Regions from separate parts of the Homo sapiens genome. Here region 2 is linked to region 1. Evidence: fine-mapped expression QTL. Tissue or cell type: whole blood. Region 1 holds a variant in brackets; the other region holds the start of a gene. All regions are shown on one strand. Distances are from middle to middle.

What was found. PIP is the estimated chance that this variant, and not a neighbour inherited with it, causes the effect.
Region 2: it holds the start of PSEN1, and the variant in region 1 is fine-mapped to the expression of PSEN1 in whole blood (TOPMed, PIP above 0.99).

Annotation. Positions count from the first base shown.
Region 1 is chr14:73,175,786-73,183,785 of GRCh38, reverse strand. All of the region lies in intron 5 of PSEN1 (presenilin 1), which reads right to left. Among named protein-coding and RNA genes, the nearest start is that of PSEN1, 43 kb to the right of the region's middle. The variant C/G (reference allele first, on the strand shown) is at 3,320.
Region 2 is chr14:73,132,360-73,140,633 of GRCh38, reverse strand. PSEN1 (presenilin 1) reads right to left here and starts at 4,127. Exons shown (of 12, transcript NM_000021.4): 1 at 4,051-4,127. RefSeq lists an enhancer at 3,668-3,777 and silencers at 3,948-4,007, 4,268-4,347.

The DNA of each region.
Region 1 (8,000 bases):
GATGACAATGGCGGCTTTGTGGAATAGAAAGGCGGGAAAGGTGGGGAAAAGATTGAGAAATCGGATGGTTGCCGTGTCTGTGTAGAAAGAAGTAGACATGGGAGACTTTTCATTTTGTTCTGTACTAAGAAAACTTCTTCTGCCTTGGGATCCTGTTGATCTGTGACCTTACCCCCAACCCTGTGCTCTCTGAAACATGTGCTGTGTCCACTCAGGGTTGAATGGATTAAGGGCGGTGCAAGATGTGTTTTGTTAAACAGATGCTTGAAGGCAGCATGCTCGTTAAGAGTCATCACCACTCCCTAATCTCAAGTACCCAGGGACACAAACACTGCGGAAGGCCGCAGGGTCCTCTGCCTAGGAAAACCAGAGACCTTTGTTCACTTGTTTATCTACTGACCTTCCCTCCACTATTGTCCTATGACCCTGCCAAATCCCCCTCTGTGAGAAACACCCAAGAATTATCAATAAAAAATAAATTAAAAAAAAAAAATACAAAAATTAGCCAGACATAGTGGCACACACCTGCAGTCCCAGCTATTTGGGAGGCTGAGGCAGGAGAATCACTTCAACCTGAGAGGCGGAGGTTGTGGAGAGCTGAGATCGCACCATTGCACTCCAGCCTGAGCAACAGAGCGAGACTCCATCTCAAAAAAACAAAAAAGGTAAGCTGAGAACATCTGTACATTTCCCTCCAAATACTTCAACTTTAGCCTAAATTTTATCTCACTCTTTAAAACTTGTCTGTCTTGGCCAAGACAAACAATACCAGTGGGAGATGTACACTGGGATTCCATATTAAGCTTTAAATTAAGGACCAGAGTAAATATTAAATAATTGAAATTCTCATCATTCTTGAGAGATGCTTTTCACCTCGGTTTTTTGGCAAAGGAAGAAGGAGATGTTCTTATTTATTTCTTTTTTTAATTTTATTTATTTATTTTTGGGAGATGAAGCCTCACTTTGTCGCCCAGGCTGGAGTGCAGTAGCATGGTCTTGGCTCACTGCAACCTCCACCTCCCAGATTCAAGCAATTCTCCTGCCTTAGCCTCCCGAGTAGCTGGGATTACAGGCACCCACCACCAACGCCCAGGTGATTTTTGTATTAGAGATGAAGTTTCACCATGTTGGCCAAGCTGGTCTTGAACTCCTGATCTCAAGTGATCCACCCTCCTTAGCCTCCCACAGTGCTGGGATTATAGGCGTGAGCCACCATGCCCGGCCTAATTTTAATTTTTTTAACTGTACCTTCTAGGAGCCCCCAAATATTTTTTTTTTAATTATTTTTTGAGATAGGGCCTCACTGTGTTGCCCAGGCTGGGGTACAGTGGCATGATCGTAGCTCACTGCAATCTCGAACCACTGGGCTCAAGCCATACTCCCACCTCAGCCTCCCTAGTACCTAGGACTATAGGCGTGGGTACACCACCATGCCTGGCTAATTTTTTAATTTTTTTTTTTTCTTTTTGTAGAGGTGGGGGTCTCACTCTGTTGCCCAAGCTGGTTTTGAACTCCTGGCTTCAAGTGATCCTCTGGTCTCAGCCATACTGGTGAGAGTCACCGTGCCCAGTCTTGCTTATTTTAAAAATAGCATTTTTCTGAATCAAAAGTAACATATGCTTGTAACACTTAAGAAACACAGAAACACTAAAAGAAGAAAACTATTCTAAAGGCCAGTGACAACCAAAATTAATACCAACATTTCCCTTTCAGGCCAGGCACAGTGGCTCACGCCTGTTATCCCAGCAGTTTGGGAGGCTGAGACAGGTGGATTGCCTGAGGTCAGGAGTTCAAGACCAGCCTGACCAACATGCCAAAACCCCGTCTCTACTAAAAATACGAACATTAGCTAGGCGTGGTGGCAGGTGCCTGTAGTCCCAGCTACCATGGAGGTTGAGGTGGGAGGATTGCTTGAACCCAGGAGGTATAGGGTGCAGTGAGCCGAGACAGTGCCACTACATTCCAGCCTGACTGACAAAGTGAGACATTGTCTCAAAAAAAAATACGAAACAAAATAAAACCGTTTCCCTTTCAGACATGTTTTCTATCTGCACGTATAGGCGTGTGTAAAGACCTTAACAGTGAGAATCAACTAGTGTACTGTTTACATTCTGCTTTCACAAATGTAATCTTTTATTACAAACATATTCTCATGCCACCAAATATTATTTGAAAATATGATTTTTTTTTAAGAGACTGGGGTCTCACTATGTTTCCCAGGCTAGACTGGAAAACCTGGGCTCAAGCAATCATCTCGTCTCAGGGTCCCAAGTAACTGGGTCTACAGGTCCGTGCCACTGCACCTGGCGTGAAACTATGATTGATTGACTGATTGATTGATTGATTTTGAGATGGAGTTTTGCTCTTGTTGCCCAGGCTGGAGGGCAATGGCGCAATCTCACCGCAACCTCCACTCCCCAGATTCAAGCGATTCTCCTGCCTCAGCCTCCTGAGTAGCTGGGATTACAGGCACTCGCCACCACGCCCAGCTAATTTTTTTGTATTTTTAGTAGAGACAGGATTTCTCCATGTTGGTCAGGCTGGTCTCGATCTTCTGACCTCAGGTGATCCGCCCACCTCAGCCTCCTAAAGTGCTGGGATTACATGCGTGAGCCACCACGCCCAGCTGAAACTATGATTTTTAAATGACAAAATAATAGTCTACTCATACGGATAAACCCACAATTGAACCTTTGCCTTATGCATGGAATCTGTATTGTTTTCCCTTTCTTTCCCCAATTTTAATTTACATTAAAATGAACATCCTACTTCACAAATATTTTTCTGCATTTCTAATTCCTTCTTTAGAATATATCATAAAAGCAAAATTACTAAATCAAAGTGTACAAACTTTTTCTAATTACTGATTTAATTAATACACACTGGCTTAGTTACTTGACAAAAAAGACTAATCTTGACAAAGTCAATATGTCAAATATGTTAATTTGTTATTTTCATATGCATTTCTTTTATTACTATGTTATACACACACATTTCAACAGGCCTTTCTCATCTTGCAAAAATCCCTAGTTCAGCTTTCCTGTGCTAAAGGGTATGAAAGAAAACAGCCCTGCTGTTTTATAGTACACAACAGTATCTTCTCTAAACCCTAAACTATCAAGGCCAGAAATCATCTGACTTTAATAAGTTATAGTTCCTTTTATAACAAATTATGTATAATAATTAACTGCCTTTCCTGTTTTTAACATTTTAAGGTTTGGTCTTTTAGTTTCTAGGGCTTGCCACAGACATTGCATAACCAACCACTGATATGAAAAATCCTCAGGGTTTATTTCCAAACAGGCTCTGGCAAGTTACT[C/G]AATCTCTGACTCAAAAGATCCTTTTAGTTATACTGGGTGTCAAAGTAAACAACTTGTTTCTATATAATTGTTTGTGTGTGCTAAGACTTGAACATTAAAAAACATCACAACACAAATGAACAAGTAAATGTGGAGATCTGGCTGAATACAAACCTCTTAAACTGTCTAAAATGAAGGATAAGGCTGGGCGTGGTGGCTCAGGCCTGTAGTCCCAGCACTTTGGGAGGCCGAAACCAGTGGATCACCTGAGGTCAGAAGTTCGAGACCAGCCTGGGCAACATGGGGAACCCTCATCTCTACTAAAAATGCAAAAATTACCCAGGCATGGTGGCGTGTCCCAGTAATCCCAACTACTTGGGAGGCTGAGGCAGGAGAATCACTTGAACCCAGGAGGCGGAGGTTGCAGTGAGCCAAGATCATGCCACTACACTCCAGCCTGGGCGAGAGACTGAGACTCCGTCTCAAAAAAAAAAATAAAATAAAATGAAGGATGGATAAAAGATGTACAAATGCGACAAAAAATATATTAAGAAAGGTTCCAGATAAGATGGAGTAAGTACCTTCCACTCTCTCTATCCCACTGAATACAGTTACAAAACCTGGGCAGAAAGCAGGCAGCAGCTGGTTGCAAAAGATGAAAAGTAATGAGAGGTAGGTGGGCTGGGGAATTAGAAGTACTAGCAGTGAGCTGACCACTTTTTTTCCTCCACCTGTGCTCATTACAACATGAGTGGGCATTAGCAAGACAATGGGAGCTCCAGAAGACCTCTAGTTCTGGCTTGAGGATCAGGAAAGAGGTCTCCTAACACCCAGACAGTGTAAAAATCCAGTTTTTCTTCCTTTTTTTTGGAGACAGAGTCTCGCACTGTAGCTCAGGCTGGAGTGCAGTGGCACGATCTTGGCTCACTGCAACCTCTGCCTCCCGGGTTCAAGCAATACTCCTGCCTCAGCCTCCTGAGTAACTGGAACTACAGGTGCCCACCACCATGCCTGGCTAATTTTTTGTATTTTAGTAGAGACAGGTTTTCACTGTGTTGCCCAGGCTGGTCATAAACTCATGAGCTCAGGCAATCTGCCCGCCTTGGCCTCCCAAAGTGTTAGGATTACAGGCGTGAGCCACCACACCCGGCATTCTTTTCCGCTTTTCTCCATTCTCGTATGCCCAGTCCTCACACAATCCTGTGGTGATGGTAATGTGGGTGGCAGAAGCCTAAAATTCAGAGGGAGGGAATCCTTACTCTGACTGGAAGAATGTCAGTCCCGAGAGAGTGGGGCAAATAGCCCTTGCTTTATTTCTCTCTCTCCTCCCACATTTTGGCCCTGACTTTAGGAAGATAAAGTCCACTTTTGGCTGCAGGAATGGAAAAGGGAAGCCCAAGAAACCACATGGAGATCACAGAAAGAAAGAAACTCATGAAAGCAATCTCTTAAAGCTGTTTATAAACTTGTGGGTCCATTCCCAAGGTGAGTGAGTATGGATATGATCCTCAACAGTACACACCGACCCTGACAACCGAATTACAAATAGAACACCACTATACCAGTCCCAGACTGGTGACTGGGTGGCATATACATGGGGCAGATCTGAGCAACACTGCAAAGGCTTTGACAAGGCTGGCTGGACCTAGCCCAATCAGATCAATTGGCCAATAAAACAAAAATATCAAAATCCTTGGAGCATAAAAATGCTCCAAGAAGTAAGGGCAAACACTCTTAAAATGAAAGGAAAGTTTTAAGTTTCAGAATAAAAAAATGTAAAGACGGGCTATATAGGAATTTTAGAACTAAAAATAAAATAACCAAAAACATTTTACTGAATAGGTTTACCAACAAAATGCAAATTTCAGGAAACTTGAAGACAGATCAATAGAAATTATCTAACCAGAACAATAGTGAAAAAAATTGGAAAATAAACAGAGCCTCAGAAACCTGTGGAATAAAAAGTTATTTGTGTTGTCACTCCCAGAAGAGGGTAAAGAGCCAGGCATGGTGGCTCACGTCTGTAATCCCAGCACTTTGGGAGGCTGAGGCAGACGGATCACTTGAGGCCAGGGGTTTAAGACCAGCCTGGCCAACATGGTGAAACCCCATCTCTAATAAAAATACAAAAATTAGCTGGGCATGGTGGCACATCTCTGTAATCCCAGGTACTTGGGAGGCTGAGGCTGCAGTGAGCCAAAATCACATCACTGCACTCCAGCCTGGGTGACAAAGCGAGACTCGGTCTCAAAAAAAAAAAAAAAAAAGGGCCGGGTGTGGTGGCTCACACCTGTAACCCAGCACTTTGGGAGGCCCAGGCAGGCGGAATACTTAAGGCCAGGAGTTCAAGACCAGCCTGGTCAATGTGGTAAAACCCCGTCTCTACTAAAAATTAACAAAATCAGCCAGGCATGGTGGCAGGCACCCGTAATCCCAGCACTTTGGGAGGCTGAGGCAGGAGAATCACTTGAACCGGGAAGGCAGAGGTTGCAGTGCGCCACTCTGTTTCAAAAAAAAAAAGAGTAAAGAATGTGGTACAGAAAAATTTTGAAGAAATAATGGTTGAAAAATTTTCCAAATTTGGTAAAAGACATAAACCTAGAGATTCAAAAAGCTCAGTGAACTCCAAACAGAATGAACAAAGAAATCCTCACACAGTCCCATAATTAAACTGCTGAAAAGAAAAAGAAAATTTTGAAAGTGACCAGAACAAAACAATGTATTACTTTTAGAAGAACAGTGATTCGAATGACTGATTTTTATGAGAAACCATGGAGGCTGAAAGAAAGCAGAAGAGCATTTTTTAAATGCTGAAAAGGGGAATATCAAGACAATTTTCTGCCCAGTAACAATATCCTTCAGTAATAAAGGTAAAATTAAAACATCCTAAGGGGAAGAAAAATTAAAACAAATTGAGGCCAGCTGCCTTGCTCTAAAAGCATTACTAAAGGAAGATGTTCAGACAGAGGGCAAATAATACTAGAAGAAAACGGCTGTCCTGGCATAGCGGCTCACGCCTGTAATCCTAGCACTCTTGCCTAGGTGACAAAGCAAGACTTTATCTCAAAACAAAAACAAAAACAAAAACAAAAACACACACACAAAAAAACCCCAGCAAAGCAGTCCTACTGATGATAATGAAATGGTATGAAGGATAATTCATTTGATTTATATGCTACCAGGTATCTGAGTAGAAGAGATATGCAAAGGAGAAAACAAACCAACCATGGGCCCTTCTGGGCTAAAAATACTACATTAAAAGTTATATTTAAGGATGAAAATTTAAACCATGAGATTAAAATATAATTTCCCAAGAAGTAATGGGAGAGACGAAAAAGTCCATCATCTGAGAGTCATGGCTGGTTAGCTTTAGAAAACTGCAAAAAGGACCAAAGTAGGAAGAAAAGCAAAAGCCAGAATCAGTGTCAAGTGGGAGGCAATAAATAAGTCAAATGGCAATAAGGTCCAGAAAAAATTAGGTTCAAAAAGGTCAGCAGATACGACCAAAGGAAAAACTGGTAACCACATGATACGCAGTTTCCATGGAGGCATGAAAAGAGAACCCACACTTCAGGGAGCTGAGGACTGAATTTGAGAGGAATCTTACGTAATAGCTATGTGTGTCAATCCAGGCCAAACTCTGGACTCAAATGTCCATTCTGACCCATTAGGTTCTGACCCACACTAGCTGTGTGACCCCTGCCTCAGTGCCTCATCCATAAAACTGGGATAATAGTAGGGGTTACCTCAAAGAACTAGTGTTTAATTAAAACAAGGCAGATGTAAAGCTATACTGTCCTGTACATGTCACTGCCCAAGATTGGGAAAACCTTTACATGCTTAAAAGCAGAGAAAAGAAGAGGTAGTTTAGAAATGGTGTTTTCTCTTTTATGTGTGAAAATATGAAAACACAGAAAAATTAAATAATTTCCTAAGATTACTAGAAGAAAGAACTCTGAGTCCAGAGCTCCACCTATCCAACTACACAGGTATTTTGTAAGGGAAAGGCAGGAAATCTGAATGTAAATTCTAGATTATAAGAAAGAAAAAGTAGAATTCCACCCTCCAATAAAATCTGAGAAATAAACAGAAGAACAAAAGTATAATGGGATCCTGGTAAAAGTCACAAGGTCAGCCTACTAAAGCAGGGAAACTAAAGGCAAGTAAACACGTGCAGACAAAAAAAGGGATAAAGAAAAGGAATTAAGAAACTAGCATTTTTAAAGTGGGGGAGGTGAATGCTTCCCAGCATGGGTTTATATCACTTGCTTTTTGGCCTTCTGAGTGTTGGTAACAACCTGTCATCATCACACATACCTGTCATCTTTAATGGTCTCCATACATTACTAATAGATTATACAGATGGCCATCACTTAACACTTCCACTCACTCAAATGTTCAACATGCAAGGTTAAACTCTGTATAAGCTTAAAGTTCACAAGCATTGAAAAGGTATGTGATATTACTAGTAACCAACTAAATGCAAATTAAGACATTTTCTTTACCTATAAAAACCAGCACAGTTTTAAAAAAGAAATTCAGCACTGGTGGGGTACGACAGATACTCTCATTCACTACTGGTGTTAAGTACAAATTGATATAAGCTTTTTGAAAACGAGATTTTGAATACCAAGACAGTTATAAATATGTAGATAATTTGCCCCAAAAATTCTACTTCTAGGATTTTACCCTAAGGAAATA
Region 2 (8,274 bases), 43 kb after region 1:
CAGAAAAGCAAACAAATTATTAAGCTATAGTGAAACAAATGAATAGTTTTAAATCACATTAAAAAAAGAAAATAAAGACGATAACTAGGCCAGATTTTGCTGTTAAATTAGTTATAAAAAACCTTGGCCAGGTGCAGTGGCTCGCACCTGTAATCCCAGCACTTTGGGAGGCTGAGGCGGGTGGATCACGAGGTCAGGAGTTCGAGACCAGCCTGGCCAATATGGTGACACCCCACCTCTACTAAAAATACAAAAATTAGCCCAGTGTGGTGGCACACGCCTGTAGTCCCAGCTACTCGGGAGGCTGAGGCAGAAGAATCACTTGAACCTGGGAGGCGGACGTTGCAGTGAGCTGAGATTGTGCCACTGCACTCCAGCCTGGGCGACAGAGGGAGACTCTGTCTCAAAAAAAAAAAAAAAAAAAAAAAAAAGAATAGCAAAAAAAGAAAAACCTTTTAGTTTTCGGATTTCAGAACTCTGGATATGAGACTATGGTCCTATATACCTTTGTATAATTATAAAGAATCTTTCCCAATAAGTTATTTAATTTCAATAACTCTATAAGGGAGATATGATTATTCAAAATCATTGTCTAAAATTCTGAGGAAATGGACAGAATACAACTAATTTTTAATGAAAAATGATTATTTACGTCTAATTAATTTGTAAATCACTTGTTATATTTAGCATTGCCTGCAGTCTTTCTTTTGCTTTGATCAACTTAAACAAGAAACCGTACAAGGCGTTGTGAAAAGCCAATACTAATACCTTTTTCCTCACTCTCATCCAAGCAAGAGTATTAATATCTTTCAATCAACAAACATTTACTGGGTTTCTTCTATATAAGCACACACTTGATGAGGGTTGGGAATTCTAATTAATCAGGTATTACTTCTGTTTACTTAAGGAGCTTACTATCTCTAGAGGGCAAAACAAGTAAATTTTTATACTGGTTAGATATTGAAATAAAAATATGTTAGGTATATTGTGTTAAAATAAATTATTCACATTGGTTTCATCTGTTTCTTTTTGCCCCCCTTTTTTTTCTTTTTTTCTTATGGAGTCTCGCTCTGTAGCCCAGTCTGGAGTGCAGTGGCATGATCTCGGCTCACTGCAACCTCCACCTTCTGGGTTCAAGCGATTCTCCTGCCTCACCTCCCGAGTAGCTGGGATAACAGGTACACGCCAACACACCCGGCTAATTTTTTGTATTTTTAGTAGACACAGGGTCTCACCATTTTGGCGAGGCTGGTCTCGAACTCCTGACCTCAGGTGATCTACCTGCCTCGGCCTCCCAAAGTGCTGGCAGATTACAGGTGTGAGCCACTGTGCCCAGCCTTTTTTTAAAAAAAAAACGAAGTCTCACTCTGTTGCCCAGGCTGGAGTGCAGTGGCGCGATCTCGGCTCACTGCAAGCTCCGCCTCCTGGGTTCACGCCATTGTCCTGCCTCAGCCTCCCGAGTAGCTGGGACTACAAGTGCCTGGCACCATGTCTGGCTAATTTTTTGTACTTTTAGTAGAGACGGGGTTTCACCGCGTGAGCCAGGATGGTCTCCATCTCCTGATCTGGTTATCCACCCGCCTCGGCCTCCCAAAGTGCTGGGTTTACAGGCGTGAGCCGCTGCGCCCGGCCACCCAGCCTCTTTTTACATTTTTTTTCTTTTTTTCTTGACAGAGTCTGGCTCTGTCGCCCAGGCTGGAGTGCAGTGGCGCGATCTCCGCTCACTGCAAGCTCCGCCTCCCGGGTTCACGCCATTCTCCTGCCTCAGCCTCCCGAGTAGCTGGGACTACAGGCGCCCGCCATCACGCCCGGCTAATTTTTTTTTTTTTGTATTTTTTAGTAGAGATGGGGTTTCACCGTGTTAGCCAGGATGTCTCGATCTCCTGACCTCATGATCCGCCCGCCACGGCCTCCCAAAGTGCTGGGATTACAGGGGTGAGCCACCGCGCTCGGCCTTTTTTTACCTTTAAAAATGTGTTTATGGCTAGGCACAGTGGCTTGTGCCTGTATCCCACCACTCTGGGAGGCCAAGGCGGGAGGATCACTTGACTCCAGGAGTTCAAGACCAGCCTGGGCAACATAGTGAGGCTCCCATCTCTAAAAAAATAAATAGCCGGCCGGGCAGGGTGGCTCACGCCTGTAATCGCAGCACTCTGGGAGGCCGAGGCGGGCGGATCACGAGGTCAGGAGATCGAGACCATACTGGCTAACACGGTGAAACCCCGTGTCTACTAAAAATACAAAAAAATTAGCCGGGCGTGGTGGCGGACGCCTGTAGTCCCAGCTGCTGGGGAGGATGAGGCAGGAGAATGGCGTGAACCCGGGAGGCGGAGCTTGCAGTGAGCTGAGATCGCGCCACTGCACTCCAGCCTGGGCGACAGAGCCAGACTCCGTCTCAAAAAATAAATAAATAAATAAATAAATAAATAAATAAATAAATAATAGTATGTTTATTAGAAAATTTAAAATAGGGATAATCACCTTGTGGTTCTCCCAGTCTGCATGCTAATAAATTTGTATGCCTTTTCTCCAAAAGAAAAACAAAACAGGTTTTTTTTTTTTTTGAGACAGTCTCACTCTTTTGCCCAGGCTGCAGTGCAGTGGCATAATCTTGGCTTACTGCAACCTCCTTCTCCCGGGTTCAAGTGATTCTCCTGCCTCAGCCTCGCTTGGGAGCAGCTGGGACTACAGGCGCGCGCCCCCACGCCCAGCTAATTTTTTGTAGAGCCGGGGTTTCGCCGTGTTGTCTGGTCTCGAACTCCTCAGCTCAAGGATCCGCCCCGCGGCCTCCCAAAGTGCTGGGATTACAGGCGTGAGCCACCGCCCCGGGCCTCACATTTTATTTCTATTGGCTAGCGCTGCTCTAAATCTTCTGTTCCTTCTGCTACACCAGGCCTAACACTCAAAATCCCTGCCAACCTTTTCCTTCCTGAAGCTTCCCTCCCCTTCCTCAGCTCTGGCGACCCTGCGCTGTGGTGGTTCTCCAACCACACTCATTCTCCTCAGCTGGCTCCTTGCTCTTCTTCCACCCCCTCGTTGCAAGTGTTCCTAAGTGTTTGCCTTGGCCTCCTCTTCCCCTTCCTTAGCTTAGACTTCTCCACTGCTCCAACATCAACTGGAAATCTATGGAATTGATTCCTGTTTTCAGCTCCAGTCCTGTTCACAGGGCATTTTCACCTGCTGGCACTTCCAAAGTGACACTTCCAAACCACTTCCTCGCCCTCCTCTCTAAACCAGGTCTTTCTTCCTAACTTCCTTATTTCTGAGAATGTCTCTGCCATGTTCTAAACTGAAAACCTCCTAGTCAACTTCACACTTTATTCCCTGATCCTCAATTGGTTCCCATGTCCCGTTAGTGTTTCTTGTAAGCCTCTGCCACCACCGCAGATCGAACTCTAATCACATCTCACCTGAATTATGGAAAAGTCACCTCAATTCTCTCACCCATCCCAGCCTCCACTATGGATTAATATGCCTAAAGCAGAGCTGACCACAACGGTGAGAAGAATCTGAGAGGGAAGCAGCAGCAAACACAAGAGTCACTGGACATGCATGCCTCGAGACAGTCCCGACCAAGGAGAAAGCATCAGACCCCGTCTTCCGCCTCGAACAAGAGGCGTGCGGACTTCGCCCAGAATGCTCGTCGCCCCTGGACAAGGACACACCCGGGGCGTGAGGCGCGGAGTTTCACCAGTTGCTCAAGCAGACCCAGCCCAAGACGCTTCCTCTTTCTCCTACTCCACTCCAGTTCAGACGGCTACTAATCCCGGCCCAAGGCACCTGCGCCCTGAGACGTCTTCGAGCAAACAGCATTTCCGGACCAAGGCTCCCCGGAATCTCTCTCCACCCGGCCGCGCCCGAAGCCCGAGAAACGGGCCGCCCCTCCTGGTTTCCCACACGGGGTTCCCCAGCCCCAACCGGCCGCGCCCCGCCCCTCATCTTTTAGGACACCGGCTTCGCGGCCCGGGCGGCCACAAAGGGCCGGGCCCTGCCCGCGGCCGCCCATGTCCGCGGTGCCTTCCTGGCTTGCCCGGACTCCCCATCACGCACATACGCTTCCCCGCCGCCCCGCTGCCGCCGCGGCTCGTAGCTCAGGTTCCTTCCAGACCAGCCGCTGTTTTGTTTCCGATGTGAAACCGCGGACCCCGGAGCTGCCTGTCCCAGGCCCCGCCCGAGAACCCTCACCGTTGTCGTCATTTCCGGCTCTGGCGTCGTTGGCGGCCGGCCCACGGAGGAGGGGAGGAGCCAGGAGGAAGGGGGCGGGGCCTCCGGCCTGGAGAAACGATTGCGGGGAGAACCCAGAGCTCCACCTGGCCTTCCCCACCTGACGGAATCCGCCCAGAGCGCTGGCGTGGGTTGTCGGGGTTCTGAGGCTGCTCGAGCTGAGGACGAAAGCCCCTATATAAATTGGGCCCAGCGTGTGCTTCTCCCGGCATACAAGCGATGGCCATCCTAAATTTAACACCTGTCATTTCTTTAGGGTACCTATTTGCGAACCAGCTGCATCACAATCAAGAGAATGCTGTTAAAATCGCAAATATCTCTGCCCTCTCCCACCACTCAATGAATCAAAACTTCTGGTGGGTGGCGAGAACCTGAGAAACTGCATTTTAAACATCCTCCGCGATTCTTGGACTCCAACTTTGACAACCAGTCTTTCTAGGTGGCAAGCTAGCTGAGAGCAGAAAATGTGTCTGGTTTGCTGGGTCACTTGATTTTTGCATCTGCCTGCTCTTTGTCCAGTTTTGGTAAAGACAGTACCAATGTCTAATTCATTAGACAGCATACCACACTTACACATATATCCAAAAGCTAAAACTAAAAAATGAATACTACCTTATTTAATCAAGGTGAACGGAGAAATGTCAAACATGGGTATTCAAAAAACCGAAAATGAAATTAACGGTACATGGTATCTGGGCAAGTTACATTCTTCTAAAGTTTCTTTAAAAATCCACCCCCAAGCGGCCGGGTGCAGTCGCTCACGCCTGTAATTCCGGCACTTTGGGAGGCCGAAGCAGGCGGATCATGAGGTTGGGAGTTCTAGACCAGCCTAACCAACATGGTGAAACCCCGTCTCTACTAAAAATACAAAAAAATTAGCCGGGTGTGGTGGCGCGCTCCTGTAATCCCAGCTACTCGGGAGGCTGCAGCAGGAGAATCGCTTGAACCCGTGAGCTGAGATCACACCACTGCACTCCAGCCTGGGAGACAGAGCAAGACTCCATCTCAAAAAATAAAAATTAAAATTAAAAAATAAAATCCACCCCAAGCTATCCCTTCACATTCCTATCGCATCAATCTCCAATCCCTCCTCCCAACCCACTGCCAACCTTGTTCAAAAACATGAGATTCTAATACTTTTTACACACAAAAGCTTCATATTTAAGAACAAAAGTAATATTTTCCATTAGCAGAATGAAAGATAAGTTGTGGGAGAAGGTTGAACGAAAAAAGATGTTTTTAAAATTCTTCACCTCCCCCACTTTAACAAGAGTAGGGATTTTAGTTTGTTCATTTACAAGTGCTCATGCTTGTCAGCAGCACATATACATTTTACAAGTGCTGAGAACAGTGCCTGATACATAACAGTGCCTGATACATACAATAGTTCAGTATTGAACAAATACAGGCTAAAACCCATCTATTTGTGAACTACTTCAATCTGATTGCAGTCCGCTAATATTAATAGGATGTCTTAAAATGCTGATGAACTATTCTTAGAAACAATCTACAAAAATTTTGGGCAAAGATATTCATGGAATATTATATAGCAAAAAATTGGGAAACTAAATATGGTACAATAGGCAGGGTGCGGTGGCTCACGCCTGTAATTCCAGCACTTTGGGAGGCCAAGGTGGGCGGCTCATCTGAGGTCAGGAGTTCGAGACCAGCCTGATCAACATGGAGAAACCCCGTCTCTACTAAAAATACAAAAAAAGTTAGCCAGGCGTGGTGGCGCATGCCTGTAATCCCAGCTACTTGGGAGGCTGAGGCAGAATTGCTTGAGCCTGGAAGGCAGAGGTTGCAGTGAACCGAGATTGCGCCATTGCATTCCAGCCTGGGCAACAAGAGCGAAACTATGTCTCAAAAAATAAAAATAAATAAATAAATAAATAAATAAATAAATAAATAAATAAATAAATGTGGTACAATAAATTATGGTCCACCCACCTCACAGAATGTCATGAAAATTTTTCATGAACGCCTGGTCACGGTGGCTCATGCCTGTAATCCCAGCACTTTGGGAGGCCAAGGCAGGAGGATCACTTGAGGTTGGGAGTACAAGACCAGCCTGGACAACATGGTGAAACCCCGTCTCTATTAAAAATACAAAAATTAGCCCGGCATGGTGGTGTGGGCCTGTAATCTCAGCTACTCAGGTGGCTGAGGCTTGAATCTGAGAAGGAAAGTTTGCAGTGAGCCGAGTTTGCACCACTGCACTCCAGCCTGGGAGACACAGTGAGACTCTGTTTTTCCCAAAAAAAAAAAAAAGTCCTGCAACAAAAAGGCAGTAAGATTTTAAAAAAATAGCAAACCCTAACATTGAATAACCAGCCTTCAGATAATTTTCTTCTCATTTTCTTTATGTCCTACTGTTAGGCCTCTGAGCCCAAGCCTTCACGTATACATCCGGATGGCCTGAGGCAACTGAAGGACCACAAAAGAAGTGAAAATGGCCAGTTCCTGCCTTAACTGATGACATTACCTTGTGACATTCCTTCTCCTGGATAATGTCTCTGGAGCTCCCCACCAAACACCTTGTGACCCCCGCCCCTGCCCACAAGAGCACAACCCCCTTTAACTGTAATTTTCCACTACCTACCCAAATCCTATAAAACTGCCCCACCCCCATTTCCCTTTGCTGACTCTCTTTTCGGACTCAACCCACTTGCACCCAAGTGAAATAAACAGCCTTGTTGCTCACACAAAGCCTGTTGGTGGACTCTCTTCACACGGACGTGTGTGTCATTTGGTGCTGAAGACCCAGGACAGGAGGACTCCTTCGGGAAACTGGTCCCCTGTCCTCACCCTCACTGCATGAGGAGATCCACCTATGACCTCGCGTCCTCCCATCAATCAGCCCAAGGAACATCTCACCAATTTAAAATTGGGTAAGCGGCCTTTTCACTCTCTTCTCCAGCCTTCTCACTACCCTTTAATCTCCCTGTCCTTCCAATTCCAGTTTTTTCCTCTCTAGTAGAGACAAAGGAGACACATTTTATCTGTGCACCCAAAACTCTGGCATTGGTCACAGACTCGGGAAGACAGTTTTCCCTTGGTGTCCAATCACTGCAGGAACGCCTGCTTGATTATTCACTCACATTTCAGAGGTGTCTGATCACCACGGGGATGCCTGCCTTGATCCTTCACCTTGGTGGCAAGTACCACCTCCCCTTGGTGGCAAGTACCTCCTCCCCTGGGTGGCAAGTACCACCACCCACTCCAAGTCTCTACCCTCTCTTTTCTCTGGGCTTGCCTCCTTCACTATGGGCAAACTTCCACCCTCCATTCCCCTTTCTCCCTTAGCCTGTGTTCTCAAGAACTTAAAACCTCTTCAACTTACACTTGACCTAAGACCAAAACACCTTATTTTCTTCTACAACCCTGCTTGGCCCCAGTACAAATTCGACAATGGTCCCAAATAGCCAGAAAACGGCACTTTTGATTTCTCCATCCTACAAGATCTAGATAATTTTTGTCGAAAAATGGGCAAATGGTCTGAGGTGCCTGACATCCAGGCATTCTTTCACACATTGGTCCCTCCCTAGTCTCTGCTCCCAATGCAACTCGTTCCAAATCTTTCTTCTTTCTCTCCTGTGTGTTCCTTCAGTCTCCACCCCAAGCTCTGAGTCCTTTAAATCCTCCTTTTCTACGGACCCATCTGACCTCTCCCCTTCTCCCCAGGCTGCTCCTCACCAGGCCGAGCCAGGTCCCAATTCTTCCTCGGCCTCCACTCCCCCACCCTATAATCCTTCTATCACCTCCCCTCCTCATACCTGGTCTGGCTTACAGTTTTGTTTCGTGACTAGCCCTCCCCCACCTGCCCAACAATTTCCTCCTAAAGAGGTGGCTGGAGCTGAAGGCACAGTCAAGGTTAATGCTCCTTTTTCTTTATCTGACCTCTCCCAAATCAGTTAGTGCTTAGGCTCCTTTTCATCAAATATAAAAACCCAGCCCAGTTCATGGCCCATTTGGCAACAACTCTTAGATGCTTTACTGCCCTAGACCCAGAAGGGCCAGAAGGCCATCTTATTCTTTTTTTTTTTTTTT